Linked DNA regions of Homo sapiens. The protein of the gene in region 2 interacts with the protein of the main gene of each other region in a pairwise test. Each region holds a gene or a part of one and is shown on either strand. Other genes may lie near its edges. The genes, in order: GATM and SCGB1A1.

Region 1 (10,138 bases), on a different chromosome or scaffold from region 2:
ATAGTAATTTCCTGATACAACAGTCCTCCTTTACCCATGATTTCACTTTCCATGGTTTCAGTTACCTTCAGTCAACTGTCGTCCCAAAACATTAAGATATTTTGAGAGAAACAGAGAGACCACATTCACCTAACTTTTAGTAAAGTATATTTATATAATTGTTCCATTTTATTATTCATTATTGTTGTTAGGCTCTTACTGTGCCTAATTTGTAAATTAAACTTTATCATAGGTATGTATATATGTACAGGAAAAAACAAAATATATAGAGTTCAGTATCAGCATCCACTGAGAGTCTGGAACATATCCCCTGAGGATGAAGGGGCACTATGTACTTAGAAAAAAATGGTACACACCAGGTGAGATGGCTCATGCCTGTAATCCCAGCACTTTGGGAGGCCAAGGCAGGTGGATCACCTGAGGTCAGGAGTTCGAGACCAGCCTGGCCAACATGGTGAAACCCCGTTTCTACTAAAAATACAAAAATTCGTCAGGCATGGTGGCATGCACCTGTAATCCCAGCTACCCAGGAGGCTGAGGCAGGAGAATTGCTGGAACCCGGGAGGCAGAGGCTGCAGTGAGCCGAGATCACGCCACTGCACTCCAGTCTGGGTGACAGAGCAAGACTCCATCTCAAAAAAAAAAAAAAAGTGATACAGAGGCAGTAACTGATTCTGAGAATATTCCATGAACCGTACGGAAAGTAAACAGGATGAAGTCATTCTGTTCTTTTAGAAAAGGAATTTGGTCCCGAGCTTAACTCATACCATAAAACGAGATGCCATGTTTCCCCTGCCAAATTTGATTGGGAGTGGCAAAACTAATTCATTATTTATTTCTGTCTTTAAACCCAGAAGCTATTTTGATTTTTAAATTTTTTTCTATAAAAGATCAAATGGTAACTGATTTAATAAGGGACATACATTTCATTTTACTGTGAATTTGAACTGTAGATCAGGTTCTTTTTCTAGAAGAAGAAAGTGAACTTCAGTCTAGTGACTTTTCTGGTTCCACTAATGAACAGTGGTACACCTGTAGGCAAGTTTTTCCCCATCTAATGGAATGATACTACAGTATGATTAGGGTTGTTGTGAAAAACAAACAGGATTGAGGATGTAAATAAAGGGTTTAACCCAGGACCCAGAACAAGGTAAGCACCAAAAAGTGTTAGCCATTATTATTATTATCATAGGATCATTTACTCTTATCATATTCATCATAAAATAATCACTTTTTAAAAATAAGATGATGTTTTCGGTTTCTAAAATGCATAATATATACAAGGTATCAGAGAATCTCTATCTTACTCTTTGTGGATCATTTAGAAAAGTTAGTAATAAGCTAGCCTATAATTAGGGACTCACCTGGTTATAAAGCTCATCAGCCATTGTGGGCTTAGGAGCTGTTGTCCACTTGGCGCCACGGTGGAAGTAGTCTTTGATAATTGACCTGTACGCTCGGTACTCAAAGAAGCGTGAACGCCATGCCATGGGAGCCTCGATAATCTCATTGCCCACAACTATCAGGATGTCTCGAGGCATTGCACTGTATAAACCTGTCAGACCAAAAAATTCCATGACAACTTCAGTAGTGTTAATTTCCAAGACAAAAAAGGTCTATATAGGGCCAGGCACAGTGGCTCATGCCTGTAATCCCACCACTTTGGGAGGCCAAGACGGGCGGATCACTTGATCCTCTTCAAGAGCAGCCTGGCCAACATGGTCAAGCCCCATCTCTACTAAAAGAATACGAAAACAATTAGCCAGGCATGGTGGCACGTGCCTGTAATCCTAGCTACTCGGGAGACTGAGGCAGGAGAATCACTTGAACCAAGAGGCAAAGGCTGCAGTGAGCCGAGATTGTGCCACCACACTCCAGCCTGGGCGACAGAGTGAGACTCTGTCTCAAACAAACAAACAAAAAATGTCTATATAATATTACCTCTTTTTTTGGTTAAAAAAATTGCTAGAAATACATGTGTGTATATATATATGAAAATAGCAAAAAATTCGAATAACACATACTAGATTGTTAACATGAATTGTGTGGTGGGGGGGAAGCCCAGAAAAAAAAGAAAAGAAAAAAAAGTGAAGGAATAAAGTCCTTGTACAAAGAGATCTTGAACCACCAAGCTTTCACCATTTGTAAGCTCCTTTCTTGCTATACAGAAACACAGCTCTTAAAGGACTATCGGTATCACAAGATAAAAATTGAGCCAAGGATCAATCTAAAACTAGAAATTAGAACAGTGACCTAAGGCACAAGAACAGTCATGCAGCAATGTCAGTTAAAAATAAAATGGAAATGTTTCTATTCCCCTTTTAATTTCTGTTCTTGAGGAAAATTAAACGAATCCACTGTTATTATGTAAGGAAATGGCTATAAAGTTTAGGAAAACTTGTCATTTCAAGGAGATTCCACGAGATGGAATGGAGTTTAGAATGTATACATCTTAATCATATCAACATGGACCAAACCATTCCTAAATAAATCTTTAAAGTTTTCAAGAACTAGCAAAGCAAAGGACTCTCCAAGAAATTTTTTGGAGCTTTCCCCTTACACATTAAGAAAGAAATTGAAAATTCAGACACTGGCAGTTTAGTTATCTGACATCACTTACCCGTAGACTCAAAATCAGGAGTTTTATACTTCAATGACCAGTCAATGGGGTCAGGCCTCCTTACTGTCACTCCTTCCGTTTTTAAAATATTGCACATTTCTTCAATTTCAGCAACAGCCTTTTTCAAATGATCTTTGGGAAAATAATGCCCTCCTTGCTTCTGGTAAAATGGCCAGTACTTTTCATATGTGTTGGCCTGGAAGTAGAAGCAAATAAACACAATACTTACAGGAGAAAAATACAGCTCATGATAGGTTCATAGGCAGTAAACAGCTCTTTGTATAAGGTATTGGAATTGAGACTCCAACCACTCCATGTTCAGTGCTGATCCCTAGCATTGAGCACATAAGCCCTCTGGGCAGACACTCAGTATCTGTTGAATGAAGAACTCTAAAACATCTTGATATTTTGAGGCCTTTTGCTCCTCCTGCCTGAGATCTCATGGCCAACCACTAACAGCATGTTTACCTTCAGACAGACTTGGAATCCTCTTGGCCAGTTTTTTTGCCATGCTTTGCAGACAAAACAGGACATAGCACTTCTATTAGAGAGCCTCAATAAAATGAAACAAGAGAACACACAAACTAGCATAAGAGAATAAAAGCACTTATACTAAGCCAAAACCATGGGCTATCCATGCATCTCAGAATTCTGTCTAGAAAATAGCACCTCAAGATATTTTGTGAAGGGAAAAAAAAAGATATTTTGCCCCGTTAAGATCAGGAGCATACTTTCAAATATGCTTTATTTCTCTTAAAACCCCATTATTGGCCAGGCATGGTTGCTCAGCCTGTAACCCCAGCACTTTGGGAGGCTGAGGCGGGCAGATAGCTTGATGTCAGGAGTTCAAGACCAGCCTGGCCAACATGGGGAAACCCCATTTCTACTAAAAATTCAAAAATTAGCCAGGCATGGTGGCACGTGCCTGTAGTCACAGCTACTTCAGAGGCCAAGGCAGGAGAATTGCTTGAACCCAGGAGGCAGAGGTTGCAGTGAGCTGAGATCGTGCCACTGCACTCCAGCCTGGGTGACAAAGCGAGACTCTGTCTCAAAAAAAAAAAAAGAAAAAGAAAAAGAAAAAGAAAAAAAAAAACATTATTGATTTTCCCATTCAACAGAATTAACACTTGCCAAAATTGTGTGACAGTGCAAATCTGCCTTTGGTAATTCCCTGTCAATATGCCTCATACCAACCACACCTCTCCTTTTTCTAATCCATTCAGCTCTCACATCTCTTCAAGTCTTTTTGTCATACAAGGAAGTGATATGATAAGCAAATTCACAAATTTTTAATAACTGAAAAAAAATTTAGAAAGTTTCCAGGGCTATGTGTATTTTAGAAGACAACTAAAGAGAAAACATTTGAATGCTTTAAAATGGCTCAATCAGTTTGCTAAAAATTATTGTTGAATAGGGTAGGTGCAACAGCTGTTAAATATTGTTGTTTGTTTGTTTTTGTTTTTGAGATGGAGTCTCACTCTGTTGCCCAGACAGGAGTGCAATGGCACCATCTCAGCTCACTGCAACCTCCGCCTCCCACCAGGTTCAAATGATTCTCCTGCCTCAACTCCCTGAGTAACTGGGATTACAGGCGCATGCCACCACGCCCGGCTAATTTTTTGTATTTTTAGTAGAGACAGGGTTTCACCATGTTGGCCAGGCTGGTCTCAATCTCCTGACCTCGTGATCCACCCGCGTCGGCCCCCCAAAGGGCTGGGATTATAGGTGTGAGCCACCATGCCCGGCCAAAATATTGGTTTTCAAAAATGTAAAAATCTAGACAGATTCTGCATTCAGATTGTTTTCCAAATGTCTAAGTTCTTAGTCAATTTCTCAATCATAAATACATTGAGAAATGTACGTGATGCATCTTCCCATTTTTCAAGCTAAATGAAGCAGAACGCCAATCAGAGAATCCAGACTCTAAGAAAAAGCCTTGAACCTTCATCAAAAGATTAGCAAAGCAATGTACATTGATATATTTTAAGTTTAAAAATGTTTTAAGTGTTTTAATTTAAATTTTTGTTTAAAACTGGTTAAAGCAGGTATTTTAAAAATGTTTATTTATATAATTGATGAACTGACAAACTACTAGTCCTGATCATGTCAGATATGACAGTCTCCACCATAAATCAGATAATTTCAGATAGCAATAAGTACTAGAAAGGTGTAAAACTTGGTAATGGGCTCAAGTGTGTCACAGTGTGTCTACTTTAGCTGGATATTCTCATTTGGTTTCCCAGCAATCCTATCAAAGAAACAGGGCAAGTTCTCATATGCTTATTTCACATGTAAGGAAAGAGGCTCTGGCAGGTCACATGCTTGCTAGCTATCTGGACAAGCAGGACTAGAACTCAAGTTCTCTGACTGTTACTCAAAGAGTGTCCCTAATACATCATGGGACTTGGCCATGTTATACTGGTTTGAACACTTCTAACTAGATGTGCAAAAACTTTTAAGACTGGAATTGCTTAACAAGTTCAAATTGTCCCAATGGCTTTTACTCATCAAGACTGATCAAATGTCTAGATGTTTAGCTCTTTAATGTCAAAAACAATATCTTTTCTAGATTTTGTGTCTCGACTTCCATTTTTATCTCAGTCTGACAAATATCAAATATATGAAAGTGGACCCATCTCTGGTTAGTTCAATATCCAGGTTCACATCAGTTACGCTGGAACCTAGCTTGGTGAATAAGGAATAAGCCAAGAAACAGGTCTTTAGAAAAACTGAATGATGCCAGTGAAAGTCTTAAACAGAGGCTGGTAAAAAAAGGTCCATAGGCAAATTTGGCCTGCTGCTTGTTTTTGTAAATAAAGTTTTACAGGAACGCAGGCACATTCATTTGTTTACGTATTGTCTATGGCTGCTTTTGCACTACAATGGCACAGCTGAGAGTTGAGTAGTTGCAACAGAGACCGATGGTCTGCAAAGCCTAAATTACTTATTATCTGGTAGAAAGATGAAGTTTGCTGACGCCTGGGGTCTGAATCATTAATTAGCTCTTTTACTAAGGTCTATAGGCAAACAGCAGGCTGAATTTCTGGACTAATGAAAAATGTTATCATCATTAAACATTTTTAAAGACCAAGCTACCCTTTCAAAAAACAAAATAAAAGCACTCCACTGTTTTCTACTCCTAGGAATTTCTGCAACAGCAACCAGAAAGAGGATAATAATGACTCTTTATATTCCTCTCAGATACATGCTGGTACTACTCATCCATTCACCACTTCCTCCTTCTCATGCCAGGCACATCTCCTACAATCCACTAGGGACAAGAAGCCTTTGAAAATTTAACACTGGGTTACAGCAGATGCAGAGTTATGCTGTCTTGCCAGACTCATTCCAAAGTATCCTCCGTGACTATTTGTGCAGGGTGAAGCTTGCCTTGATAAATTAAACCTTCCTGGGAGAAAAAGGTTATTTGAACAAATGTGATTTTTTCTTGTAGAGTTTATAATCTGGCAAAGGTTGGGCAAAGTACAAATGATCAGGGCACAATACGTTTTACAAGAGATAGCTAGAAATTGTTTACACTTCCTTTATAACCCTGCTAAATGAGCCAGCAATCATTCACCAAGTTGTTTGCAAGATGATGAACACTATATTAGACGCTTAGCATATGATGCTTTTAATAATCTGTTGCAAAGGTATGTCTGCATTCCTTGAACCTTTATATTCTTTCAAAGCCTAAAACCCTTTACAAAGGTTTGCCAAGTGAATTTTTAAATACTGTCTTTGGAAGGCTAAGAAATGACAACAGAAATGTATTTATCCAGCTGTAAGCTTATATTACACTAATCTTGATTAATCTTGTATTTTATAAAAGGTCCTTTATCAAGGGCTTTATTTTTAAAAGACAAAAGCAAAACAAAAAACATATTTGAGGCTGGGCACGGTGGCTCACCCCTGCAATCCCAGCACTTTGGGAGGCCAAGGCGTGTGGATCACGAGGTCAGGAGATCGAGACCATCCTGGCTAACACGGTGAAACCCCGTCTCTACTAAAAATACAAAAAAAACAAATTAGCCAGGCCTGGTGGGGGACACCTGTAGTCCCAGCTACTTGGGAGGCTGAGGTGGGAGAATGGCATGAACCCAGGAGGCGGAGCTTGCAGCGAGCCGAGCTCACGCCACTGCACTCCAGCCTGGGCGAGACAGCGAGATTCCATCTTAAAAAAATATATATCTATATATATATATATTTGATAGCAGATATTTACTATATTTTGCAGAACAAAAAGTCACAGAGCTTTAAAAAATTATGCTTCCCAACAATTATGTTCCACATTCCTTTCCTTAAAATTTCTCTAGTACTTATATCTTCCAACATCTTCTGCTCTGATTGCCTATGGACAGTTTACTACATTATTTTTTCTTTTATTGTTCCCAAACTGATTAATATATGTGTCATTCTTCTCTACTACGAGGCATGGCCTTGCTTGCTAGGATCCATGCATGTCTTAGATTTACTTTCTTCTCCCTCAAAACCAGGCTTAGCACATGGCATGAAACAGAAATAACCATTATTTCCTGTCTAGAATCAAAGAGAGAAAGAGAAAGAAGAATAAACAAACAAAAAGAACCAGACGAATGAAATCAATACTGCTAATGTTACTGATATCTACAACTATTACACCGACAAAGTACCTTTGGAATGTAATTGGCAAACTGGATCCATACAACTATAATAAGTTGTTGTGTTGTCCTTTAAAATACTTAACATGTAACCTTTTATCTTTAGATTAATCCTTAATCCTGTTAGGTAGATAGCAAACTAGCAAACCTCTTAATATCTTCATTTTACTGTGGCCCAGAAATTTGTGGAATCTTGTACAAGGTCAAATAGCTAAGTAACCGAGACTAGCTATCAAGTTTTTATCAAATACCTAATTAATCCCAGACTCCTGACTTCAGCATGGTACTTTTTCCACAAGTCCATGAAATGACAAAGTCTAAAGTCATAAATCAAGTGACAAAGAACTCAAAATTACCTCTGAGAATTCTGATTCTGTAAAATCGCATGATATGAAAGTCTATCATTTTAAAGACAAGTAGAAGGATAAATTATTGCTTGGATTTAAATTTTAATTTCACCCAATTAAAATGGTTAGGGGATGGGACTTTTCAAGAAAAGACTTAAAAAGACTACTATGCCTTTTAAAAACATGTGGATGGTGTATAAATTAATCTTCTCATCAAATTCCAAATATCAGAACCAAAGATAGTTTCAGAACAATTAGAAGTTATTACTTTTTCTATTTCCCTGTCTTCCAAGTCTAACTCAGGAGTCATTTTCTTCAAGAGGACTTCTTAACTGGCCAGCCCTTGGTCATTCCTCTTTCCTGGCACTTCAACTGCCTTGTCAGTCGACTGGAATAAGATACTTGGTCTTCGTTTCTATGTGAACATCAAATCTCTTCAAATAGAAAGGAAGATCTTTTATATTAATACCTCTAGAGCCCTGGTACATGGTAGGCAATATTTCTGAAGACCACGACAATGCTGTTACAGAACTTCTTTCCTCAATCCACTTTACAAATAAAAGTGTAAATATTCAGGAAAAATTTAAGGACACTAAAGATACATTTGTAACCCATTATTAATAGGAGTCTAGGCTGTGTCTACAATGTGGAAAGTGGTCCCTTAGATATGGAATCCTTATGCAGTATAGAACCTGAACACCAGCCCATAGAGGCCCTGGATATAAGAACGTTACAGATAAAAACCACTAGGAGTTTTTGTTTGTTTGTTTGTTTTTGAGATGGAGTCTCACTCTGTTGCTCAGGCTGGAGTGTAATGGCGCCATCTCAGCTCACGGCAACCTCTGCCTCCTGGGTTCATGCCATTCTCCTGCCTCAGCCTCCCAAGTAGCTGGGACTACAGGCACCCGCCACCACGCCTGGCTAATTTTTGTATTTTTAGTGGAGACGGGGTTTCACCGTGTTAGCCAGGATGGTCTCGATCTCCTGACCTCGTGATCCACCCGCCTCAGCCTCCCAAAGTGTTGGGATTACAGGTGTGAGCCACCGCGCCTGGCCACCACTAGGAGTTTTTAAAAAGAGAGATATTACTTGTTGCCAGGGAAATCCTGGAAGACTTTGTGAAAGGTGTCATTGAAGCTAGGTGGTGGTAGGTTTAAACTACAGACTAAAGGGCACAGGAAGATGGATGGAAGAGACTTAGGTAGGGGCAAAGATGCAGGGCTTGTGAAGAAACAGTGAGTAGTCTAGCTTAGCTGCCTTATATGGTTGTCTTATAAAGTCTGCTGAAAACCAGGGTGGAATATTAGAGGATAGAGGGACTTGACCAGAAATGAACACCTGCTAATCTGCTGTACTAACAGATGAGTCAATAACTGGAATGGGGAATCCTGGAAATGCAGACAAGAGTCAGATTGTGAAGGATCTTGAATACCATGAAGACTTTATCCTAAACAATGCGGGGGGTGGTGGGGTAGTGGGGGTCGCCTAGCAAAGTACAGGAGGAAAAGAAGCAGGATGAGTAACATGATCACATCTGAGTTTTAAAAAATCACTTGGATTGCAGCTGCCAGGTGATTTGGTGAGAAGAGTGAGTAGGAGTGACCAGTTAGGAGTTAACTGCAATAGTCCAGGCAGCAGATGAGCTCCCAACCTTTAGGGAGAGGCAAAGCAGAGGAATGAGGCAAGATTCATTTTTGACAAAAGCCTTGTTACATCACGTGACATAAGGAGAAATCAAAGATGATTCTTTTGTGTTTTAGCTTGATTAAATAGGAATGCCAATAATTAAAAGGCAGGAATGAGGAGGGATCCACTTGAGCAGGTGGCTGGCAACTGAACTCCAGATGTGCCAAGTTTGAAGTCCTGTGGCAATATCCCGTAAGGAGTTTAACTCGTTGATCTGGAAGGAGTTCAATACAGAGATCCGGACCAGAGAGGAGGTGGGAGCGGTAGCTGTGAGAATGGCTAAGAGAAGGGGGCTGAAAGTAATATTCTGTTCAACCTTGCCATTACAGGCTGTGACGGAAGAAGATCTGAGGACAGTGAAAGAACTATTATTCCCAGAAAAGCTCTCTCAGAATCCAAGGGAAGAGCTTCAGGAAGCTCTTCAGGAAGGAAGCAATTATCATTGGTGTAAATAGTGTCAAATACCACAGAGGTGTCAAGTAAGATAACTTAATCACTGGATTGAGAGGTCTGGGAGTAAGCTGAAGGGAAAGCAGTCAGAGGGTAGCAGCAGCAGGTGAGGAGGGAGCGCACTTTCAGACATGTGAATAGCCTTCCTTTACCTTCACCTCGATGGTGAACGGTGGAACACAGGCGTTTTCTGCTCTGCCCACTATCACTTCCTCTAAGGGGTCCCATTCGTTGTAAGAAGAGACAGGGCAGTCCTTGGGCAGAGGCTCAGTGGCTTTGTCGTCAGCTGCACAGGAGTTCCGGGAGGAAGCCGTAGCTGCCTGGGTGCTCTGGAAAGTTCGCTGCACCCATCCTGTCAAGGTTCGTCCAAGCTTCCAAGAACAAAGAAAAGATTA
Region 2 (10,487 bases):
GCTCCATCTGCAGAAACAGGGAAAGCCAGGTCCCTCTGTGCCTGGGCACAGCTCACAGCTGGTTGTTGTGGGGGGAGTTGCCCACAGGATGCCACTTTGCAGCCCAGAAGGACATCCATATGCCGGGCAGACGGGAACATCTCTGCAGATTCTTAATATGCTGCTCACATCCTAGTTTGTGGGCCGAGTGACAACTGGGAAAGTGACCAAGATCCTGGTGGAAAATCAGAACAGTTGACAACCACACTCCCCCACCTCTCACACCTTCCCACTCCTGCTTCCCCAGGCCTGGCGTATTACCACCAACAACCACTCTGGAGTGGGAGCTGAAGGGCTCCCAGGCTAGGGAGAGTACCTACAAATGAAGAGTGGTCGCTCCTCTAAATCCAGGCACCTCTCCCACAGAAAGAGTCCCCAGGGCGGGAGGAGGCACACGCGTTGCTCTGTGGTTTGTAACAGCAGAAAAACTGGAAAAAAAAAAAAGTGCAAACGTCCATCAATAAGGCACTGGAAAATTAAATTACATTATATCCCTGCAAAGATGACATTACATCCATGAAAAGGGATATCCCACAGCATGAAAAAATCAAAGGTGTCCAGGCACGGTGGCTCATGCCTATAATCCCAGCACTTTGGGAGGCTAAGATGGGCTGATCACCTGAGGTCAGGAGTTCAAGACCAGCCTGGCCAACATGGTGAAACCCCGTCTCTACTAAAAATACAAAAAATTAGCCAAGCATGGTGGCGCCTGCCTGTAGTCTCAGCTACTTGGGAGGGTGAGGCAGGAGAATCACTTGAACCTGGGAGGCGGAGGTTACAAGTGAGCCGAGATCATACCACTGCACTCCAACCTGGATGACAAGAGTGAAACTCCATCTCAAAAAAAAAAAAAAAAAAAGAAAAGAAAAAGAAAATTAGCCGGATGTGGTGGCACACAACTGCAGTCCCAGCTACCCAAGAGATTGAGGCAGGAGGTTCCCTTGAGCCCAGAAGTTTGAGGCTACAGTGAGCCGTGATCACACCACTGCACTCCAGCCTAGGTGACAGAACAAGATCCTGTCTCAGAAAATAATAATAGGCCGGGCACGGTGGCTCACACCTGTAATCCCAGCACTTTGGAAGGCCGAGGCGGGCGGGTCACTTGAGGTCAGGAGTTCAAGACCAACCTAGCCAACATGGCGAAACCCCATCTCTACTAAACATACAAAAAATTAGCCAGGTGTGGTGGTGCATGCCTGTAGTCCCAGCTACTCAGGGGGCTGAGGCACGAGAATCGCTTGAACCTGGGAGGCAGAGGTTGCAGTGAGCCGAGATCATGCCATCATGCCACTGCACTCCAGCCTGGGTGACAGAGCGAGACTCTGTCTCAAAAAATAATAATAATAATAATTTTGACCCTAAAAACGGATTATGCATTTGGTACATATAATTTAAACTTTATTACATTTGCATACAACTACATAATAGTTGAACTAAAATGCAGTTTACTCGTTGAAATTGTTATCAATATCCATTAATTACAATTTTGAGATTTTCTTTTTGTGTTTTGCAGCCAGCAGATACATGACCATTTTTGAGGCCATCTAAAGGCTCACAGGCCCTAGGCATTGTGGCTGGTGGACAGAAAGGCTGGAATGTCCAGAGGTTGCCAGGCTCCTCCTAGGAGGTCCCTGGGTCAATCAATGCAGGCGTCAGCCCCAGGAGCTGCCAAGGCAGAAGAGAATGAACCAAACCCCTAAGGAAAAACCTACTCTGCTCAAGAGTTATTTCCTGAGCACTAGAAGAGCTGGATACTCAGGGTGGAGGGAGGAAGCTGACCTCTACGGCTTGCCCCGGGAGCTGACCCAAGCCCATGGCCCGACTAGTCCTCCCCCAGCAGCCCAGCCGGATGGATAGGCTCGGAACAGGCCGCCAACCTGTTGTCTGGGCCACGCTGGGACTTGCAGCCAGCCAGCTGCCAGCACACTGCACCCCAGCTTCCTGCTCATTACAATACACCAAGCACTGAACCTGGGGGCAAGCACCTGGCCTCAGCCAATGCCTTCTGGCAGTATGGGCTGGGGCTGCTGCTGGCCCAACCCCTCCCACCTGCCATTGCCACCAGACCTCTAGCTGGGGACATAGGCAGGGCTCCCCAAGGAGCACTGAACATGGCTCAACAACCTGGCACCCACATGTGCACCCACCATATCCCATACATGGAGGAGGGGCCAGCAGATCCAGGGCCTTGTAGTCCAAATACCCAGGAGAGGCTTCCAGGCCCCTTAGTACCCTCCCGCTTCTGGCTCTGGAGAGGCTCTTTCTCCTGCTCCATTCTCAAAGGCCAGAGCCAGGCCAAAGGTGCTCACGTCATCCCAGCTGGAGCCTGGGCAAGGGGTGAGCTCAGAGCAGGCTCCCCAGCCACTGCCCCAGCTGGAAGGTTCAGCCACCCAAGGACCAGGGCTCCCCCAGATCTAGGCACAGCCAACACAGGGTTTGGGGTGCAGGATTTGGCAGGAGCTGTTCCGATTCACTGCCATCCTCATGGTACTAATAGCCACATGGCTTATCTTCCCTCGGAACAGTTTGTCTTTGCACGGTGACCAGGTAGGTAACTGACCACATGTGGCCAGAAACAGCAGGTCCCAGTCCTCTCCACATGCTAAGTCAGGCTTGAGGGTTCTGGCCTGGAACTCACAGTGTATAGAGTTTAAGGATTTGAGGAGCAGGTGTTAGAGTTTAAGAAGTTCTGAGTTCTGGCCAGGCATGGTGACTCACGCCTATAATCCCAGCACTTGCGGAGGCCAAGGCGGGAGAATCACCTGAGGTCAGAATTTGGAGACCAGCCTGGCCAACATGGTGAAATCCCATCTTTATTAATAATACGAAAATTAACAGGGCGTGGTGACGCACGCCTATAATACCAGCTATTTGGGAGGCTGAGGCAGGAGAATCGTCTGAACTCGGGAGGTGGAGGTTGCAGTGAGCCGCTGAGATCGTGCCATTGCACTCCAGCCTACGCAACAAAAGCGAAACTCCGTTTCCAGAAAAAAAAAAAAAAAAGCTCTGAGTTCCAAGCCTTGACTAACACACTTTTTGCCTCACTATCTCAAGCAGAGGGTCAGAAGAGCAGGGGCTTTGCAGGGTCCTGAGGCAGGGGAGAGAAACACCCACCGCCACCAAGCAGGATCTCCCAAGGGCCAGATGGCAGAGCCTATCTGGGACACTTGGTGGTGGCAGTCGAGGTACCTTCCAGAATCAGAGCAAACCTCCAACCTCGCACCTGAAAGGCCAGTGCCCCCGGTGCCCCCAGACTCCCACTGTACCTGTGTGCTTATCTGTCCCATGCATGTCGGACCATGGCCAGGTCCCCTCCTGAGCCTGGGCCCCCTTCATGTGGCTTCCTCCTCCTGGCACATCCCCCGCTTCACCCCAACCACCAGCATCACCCATCCACCAGAGGCCAGCTCAAATGCCAGCCCTCCACGTGCCCTCTCCCCTCTGCCCAGCTACCTTTCTTGGGGCAGCCCCCTTTCTTTTTTTTTTTTTTTTTTTCCTTTTTTTTTGAGACGGAGTTTCGCTCTTGTTGCCCAGGCTGGAGTGCAGTGACGCGATCTCGGCTCACCGCAACCTCTGCCTCCCAGGTTCAAGCGATTCTTCTGCCTCAGCCTCCCAAGTAGCTGGGATTACAGGCAAGCACCACCACAAGCCCAGCCAATTTTGTATTTTTAGTACAGACAGGGTTTCTCCATGTTGTTCAGGCTGGTCTCGAACTCCCAACCTCAGGTGATCCGCCTGCCTTGGCCTCCCAAAGTGCTGGGATTACAGGCATGAGCCACCACGCCCAGCCTGGGGGCAGCCCCCTTTCAACTCCCGGAGCACCATTTCCTTCTCTGACTTCCTCCATCTCCCCACAGAGCATTCCCATCAGTTGCACCCATCTCTGTCTCTCCTCCTAGCTGTTAAGTTCCTCAAAGACCCAGGAGCCAGCTATCCTGTCCCCAGGACCTCGCACCATGAAGGTGGAAAGTAGAGAGCAGAGTCTGAGGCTATGGGTGATGTGACTCCTGCCTAAGACCCCTGCAGCCATCACAGCTGCCCCGGCCAGACCAGCCACTGCCCACAGAGGGATCCACTAGTGGCGGCACTGGATGGGCTTTAGGTGCCCCCAGTGGTCCAGCTCATCTTCCTTGCCCATTTCAGCTCCATTGGCCACAGCTTTCTTTTGTTTGTTTGTTTGTTTATTTATTTATTTATTTTTGAGATGGAGTTTCGCTCTTGTTGTCCAGGCTGGAGTGCAATGGTGTGATCTCGGCTCACTGCAACCTCCACCTCCTGGGCTCAAGTGATTCTCCTGCCTCAGCCTCCCAAGTAGCTGGGATTACAAGCACCTGCCACCACGCCCGGCTAATTTTTGTATTTTTAGTAGAGAGGGGGTTTCACCATGTTGGCCAGGCTGGTCTCAAACTCTCGACGACCTCAGTTGATCTGCCCTCCTCAGCCTCCCAAAGTGCTGGGGTTACAGGCAGGCTACACCTTTCAACAGTCCCTAAGAGGGGAGGGATGCAGACACCTGAAATCCTCAAGATGGGCTAACCTCAAGAGCCCAGATGATGGGACACAGAAGGAAACTTAAAAGAAAGAAGGCACTTCTGAGATGCTTTATGCAAATACAAGCAAATGCATATGTGGATTCTTTTTGCTTTTTTTTGAGACGGAGTCATGCTCTGTCACCAGGCTGGAGGTGCAGTGGCATGATCTCGGCTCACTGCAACCTCTGCCTCCTGGGCTCAAGTGATTCTCGTGCCTCAGCCTCCCGAGTAGCTGGGATTACAGGCAAGCGCCACCATACCCAGCTTTTTGTATTTTTTTAGTAGAGACGGGGTTTCACTATGTTGGCCAGGATGGTCTCAATCTGACCTTGTGATCCACCCGCCTCAGCCTCCCAAAGTGCTGGGATTACAGGCGTGAGCCACCGCGCCCAGCCTTCTCTTTGTTCTTTTTTGCTCTATTCATGCCTTGTTTTTCCCCCTTTGCAGTCTGCCTTGGAGATCATTTCACCATCAGCTCAGAAGATCTTCTTTCTCTGTTTTCAGCCACACAGCGTTTCATTGTAAGGACACACCATAACGTACTTGACAAGTCTTTGTTGGTTGCTAGTTTAGAACGTGTGCTCTTACCGGTGTTAAGGCGTCTCGGAGTGGGACGGTTCCGGGGTCACCACAGCCTTCAACTGTCACATGGCACAAAGGCCTCATGCATGGATTCATTCCAGGGATTCCTGTTTAGCAAGCGTTGCGTACCTTGGCTTACAGCGGCCTCAGCCCTAAAGGAGGTCAGTCAAGTAAAGGAGTCATACAAGAAAATAAGAATTGCAAAGTTAAAATATTGTATAATGGGCCCTGTAAGCAGAGGGGGAAGAGAGGCCCATGGGGAGAGTCACCACCCATCAGAACCACCTGTCGGGGAAGGCTTCACTCCCTATTTTCACCCCCAACCCTATTTTTCCCAAGTCTTCTCTGTGTCAGGAAATAACACCCCATTCCCCCAGCTGCCCAAGTCAGGGTCAGTTCATCAGGAAAGGGATATCAGACCATGTCACTCCCTGATTAAAACCTTCAAGAGCTTCCCACTCTGAGTGTAAAGGCCTTAGAACGAGGCCTTGTGTGCTCTGGCCCCTGAATGCCCCCTTTGCAGGCACAGCAACCCTTTCGAAGCCCTCAGGCACAATGGGGTCCTTCTTTTTTTTTTTTTTTTCTGAGACGGAGTTTTGCTCTTGTTGCCCAGGCTGGAGTGCAATGGCGTGATCTCAGCTCACCGCAATCTATGACTCCCAGATTCAAGCAATTCTCCTGCCTCAGCCTCCCAAGTAGCTGGGATTACAGGTGCCCACCACCACATCCAGCTAATTTTTGTATTTTTAGTAGAGACGGGGTTTCATCATGTCAGCCAGGCTGGTCTCAAACTCCTGACCTTAGGTGATCCACCTGCCTCAGCCTCCCAAAGTCCTGGGATTACAGGCATGAGCCACCCTGTCTGGCCTTTTATTTGTTTATTTATTTTTATTTATTTATTTATTTTTGAGGAGTTCTTGAAGTGCCACGCAATGCCTCTCCATGTCTATCTACCCCAGTTCCCGACTCCTAGCACCACATCTGGCACATCATAGGTGGTCAGCATTTATTGGATGAATGAATGGATCAATATTTGATTGAGTCTTGAAGTACGAATAGAATTTGGCGAAGTGGACAAGGCAGGAAATGTGTATTCAGGCATGAGGCTTAGCTTGTGCATAGGTAGAAAGGCATGAAAAAACATGGAACATTCTCGAATCCACAAATAGTAAGAGAGGGCTAAGTCGTTGTGTGGGGGAGAGGAGAAATGAAGTTCAAATGGTAGGCAAAGGTCAGTGGGCAAGGGCCTTGTAAATTGCACTTGAATTTTATTCTTTAGGCAAAAGGAAGAGTTTAAGGGTTTCAAGAAGAAGGACACGACCAGTGGGTTTTAGGAAGATCATTCTGATGGCCTTTCAGAGGATGGCTGAGGAGAGCTAGCAGGGAGGCAGGGAGGTCGAGTCAGGGGATTTTGACCAGGCCAGGTTAGGTGCTATGAGGCCCGGGCTTTGGAGAAGAACCAGGAAATGGCAACTGGAGGCAAGAAAGGGGAGAAGGCCAAAGCCTGGGAACCATCAACACTTAAGAACAGTAAAGAATAAACATCTAAAGAGAACAAGAAGGAATGGCCAGAAGAAGGAAAACAGGAAAGAACTGAGGCGTGGGAGCGCAAGAGAGAGAATGGTTCGAGAAGGAAGCAGTCACAGGTGTCAAGGCCATTGGGAGGTCAAGTGAGATAAGGACTGAAGGTCCCACCAATTGGGCCATCAGGAGCACAGGACTTGAGAGCACTTCTGGGTGGGAACAGACCCAGCCTGGGGCAGGGCTCAGGTTTCTGATGGGAATTCTGGAAGGGTCCCTTTTATTCAACATGCTTCAATCCAGGGGCCCCCGAAGTCTGACCACAGCAATGCTCCAAACCATGTGTCTTTCCTGGCTTAAGGTTCAGTCGCCCTCCTCAGAGGGGAGCCTATGAAAGAGCCCAGTGGAGTGTCAGGGTCCTGAGTCCTAGTCCTAGTCCTGTCCCTGCCACTTGTGAGGGAACTTGGGCCTCAGTTTCTCCAGGTGGGCTCCACAATTGCTTCTCTTGATCTGGACTGCCCCAGTGCCCAGGTTCAGTGAGTGACACAGGCAGCTGGGTTTCCACATCCTCTGACTTGGGTTCCCTTCACTGCCTCCAGGCAGGGCTCGGCCCTCCACCCCCAAGTGGCCCATTGTGTGAGCTCAGTTTCAGTGGGGACAGAAACTGGGTTGAGAAAAGGGAATATTTACCTATCCCACCAAGCCAATGCCAAGTAAATAGTGCAGTATCTTATGTAGAGCCCTTGCCCTGCCCTTCCCCATCTGGGTGCTGCTGCCTAGAGCATATAAAAGGCACCTTGCTGGGCATGTCTCATACTAGCCCACCAGACTCAGAGACGGAACCAGAGACGGGCCAGAGCATCCCCCTCCTCCACCATGAAACTCGCTGTCACCCTCACCCTGGTCACACTGGCTCTCTGCTGCAGCTCCGGTGAGTGCTCAGAGACCCTTCCCTCCCTCCTGGACTTAGGAACTCTCAGGACCCCCCAGTTCTGCTCAGAAGAAGGAGTGAGCTGCCCATTCCTGCTCTGGAGCTGCTGGGAGGACCTGGGCATGCTGAGTCTCAGAAAACTGGGTCTGGTGAGCAAGCTCATCTTGGAAACTTGGAGAGAGCCCCAGGCTGTAAGGAAGCCTAAAAAGGGTCCCATCTTCTATATCCAACAACCCTCAGAATCCCAGGGAATGGAATAGCCTGGAGGGAGGAGTGGAGAATACCCCATAAAGATGAGTACATCCAGCATAGGAATAATGAGGCCCTCATCCCAGATCTGGACAGACTCCAAGATGCTGAGACCTTGGTGCAGCCTCCAAGTCTGGGGTCTCCACTCCATGCTGGCAGCTGAAGTCACTGGAAGGGGAGCTGCAGGGACTCGTGACCCCAAAAGAAACCCAACCCAAGACAAGGTCTCTCATTCTGGGCACAGAGGAATATTCCAGAAAGAGAGCTTCCCTTTGGGGAACTGCCAACCCAGAGTGAAGTTTTCTAAACATTTCCGTCCTCTGCAAAAGGGATTAGGAGTCTCTGAGTAGTTGCTGCTGTCACTAAAAGGAAAAGAACTGTGGGGGGAAGAGGGGCAGAAAGAGAGACGGAGAGAGGGGGAGAAAGGAAGGAAAGAAGGATCACAGCTCTCTCCAAGATCCCCCGTCTTTGGGGAACTGGGTTATCTAACTCTGTTTTTCACTCTGCGTCAGCCTCTTCCATTCTCATCTGAAAATGCTGTTGTTATTTTTTAATAAACAAACTCCAATTAATTCACTTGGAAAGCTTCACAACACCCATGGAGATAAGTTTTATGACCCTGGGGAGTTAGAAAACCCAAACCAAGAAGCAGTAGGAACAACTATTTTGCAGAGAGGTTTATTTGTTTTTCAGAGAAAATGACATCATTTTGGACTGAAATGTGTATTAATTAGAAGATCTCAGTGCTGTCTGCGTACAGAGGTGGGTGGCTGAGCAAGATAGGACTGCAACATGTTAAGGGGTGGGTCAGAGATGCATTTGTCTATTTGTGTGCACATGCATACAATATTTAACACTTACTTCACACAATGTGCCAATCACTGTCACCCTTTCACATAATATCTCTTTTCATTCTTTTTTTTTTTTTTTTTTGAGACAGAGTCTCGCTCTGTTGCCAGGCTGGAGTGCAGTGGCGCGATCTCAGCTCACTGCAACCTCCGCCTCCCGGGTTCAAGCGATTCTCCTGCCTCAGCCTCCCAAGTAGGTGGGATTACAGGCACGCACCACTGCACCCAGCTAATTTTTGTATTTTTAGTAGAGACAGGGTTTCACCATGTTGGCCAGGATGGTCTCCATCTCTTGACCTCGTGATCCACCCACCTAGGCCTCCCAAAGTGCTGGGATTAGGCGTGAGCCACCATGCCTGGCCTCTCTTTTTATTCTTACAACAACCCTATGAAGTAGGGATATTGGGCCAGGCACGGTGGCTCACGCCTGTAATCCCAGCAATTTGGGAGGCCGAGGTGGGTAGATCACTTGAGGTCAGGAGTTCAGGACCAACCTGGCCAACATGGTGAAACCTTGTCTCTATTAAAAATACAAAAATTAGCCAGGCATGGTGGCGCATGCCTGTAGTCCCAGCTACTTGGGAGGCCGAGGCAGGAGAATCACTTGAACCTGGGAGGCAGAGGTTGCAGTCAGCCGAGATGGCATCACTGCACTCCAGCCTGGGCAATAGAGCGAGACTCCGTCTGAAAACAAATAAATAAATAAAAATAAAATTTAAATTAAATTAAAATTTAAAAAATAAAAAATAAAATGAAGTAGGGATATTGTTCCCATTTTACAGATGAGAAAACTGAGCTACAGAAACACAGAGTGACTTGCCTGGTGACACAGTAAGTTACACATCAAGGACCTAAGTTCTGGAGAGGGTCTGACTTGGAGTGGCAATTTCTAGTGAGGCCCTAGAGTCAGAGGAGGGAAGGCAAATTTGTTCAGAAGGCAGAGAATTCAAGGAAAAGGGATTTGAGACTCACTGGGAAGATGGAGGCAAGCAGTGGGTAGAAAATGGTGACTTTCCCCCATGTTCCTGGTTGTAAGGACCTGAGAAGAAAACAGAGTCTGGAAGCTCTGTGTTGAAGGGAATGAAGTGGTACAAGTGGCTGCTCTGTCCATGAGCTGAGTGTGCCACAGGGCCCGCTGTGCACATGTGCACACCTCTTCCCGGCCAGGTTCGGGGGCCCATGTTTGGCTGGTACAATCTCAATGGCTTCTTTTCTTTTCTTTTCTTTTCTTCTTTTTCTTTTCTCTTGCTTGCTTGCTTGCTTGCTTGCTTGCTTGCTTTTTGAGACAGAATCTCGCTCTGTTGCCCAGGCTGGAGTGCAGTGACGAGATCTCAGCTCACTGCAACTTCTGCTTCCTGGATTCAAGTGATTCTCCTGCCTCAGCCTCCTGAGTAGCTAGGATTACGGGTGCCCAGAACCACGCCCGGCTAATTTTTTGTATTTTTAGTAGAGACGGGGTTTCACCATGTTGGCCAGGCTGGTCTCGAACTCCTGACCTCGTGATCTGCCTGCCTCGGCCTCCCAAAGTGCTGGGATTACAGGTGTGAGCCACCGTGCCTGGCTTACAATCGCTTTTTCCTGCCAGAGCCTGAATTTGTCACATGCCCCCAGTGAAGCATGGCTCAGGGCATCTCTAACCACTGATGAGAGGCAAGTTTCTGGTGGGAAATAAAACCCTCAGTGGCCTCTTCCCAGCCTCCACACTGCATTAAAAAATCAGGCCAGCAGCTTCTATGATCAATACTCTGCCTTGATCTCCAACAGAAAGAAAAACGGCACCTTGCT

What was found.
Region 1: the proteins of SCGB1A1 (region 2) and GATM interact in binary tests that used the Homo sapiens proteins (3 or more experiments, as listed by UniProt).

What each region holds. Positions count from the first base shown.
Region 1 is NC_000015.10:45,366,706-45,376,843, forward strand, and holds part of GATM (glycine amidinotransferase, mitochondrial isoform 1 precursor), read right to left. Parts: intron 10,115-10,138; coding exon 9,896-10,114; intron 2,817-9,895; coding exon 2,621-2,816; intron 1,556-2,620; coding exon 1,365-1,555; intron 1-1,364. UniProt on the Homo sapiens protein: Transamidinase that catalyzes the transfer of the amidino group of L-arginine onto the amino moiety of acceptor metabolites such as glycine, beta-alanine, gamma-aminobutyric acid (GABA) and taurine yielding the corresponding guanidine derivatives.
Region 2 is NC_000011.10:62,411,546-62,422,032, forward strand, and holds the start of SCGB1A1 (uteroglobin precursor), read left to right. Parts: upstream 1-7,487; 5' UTR 7,488-7,550; coding exon 7,551-7,605; intron 7,606-10,487. UniProt on the Homo sapiens protein: Binds phosphatidylcholine, phosphatidylinositol, polychlorinated biphenyls (PCB) and weakly progesterone, potent inhibitor of phospholipase A2.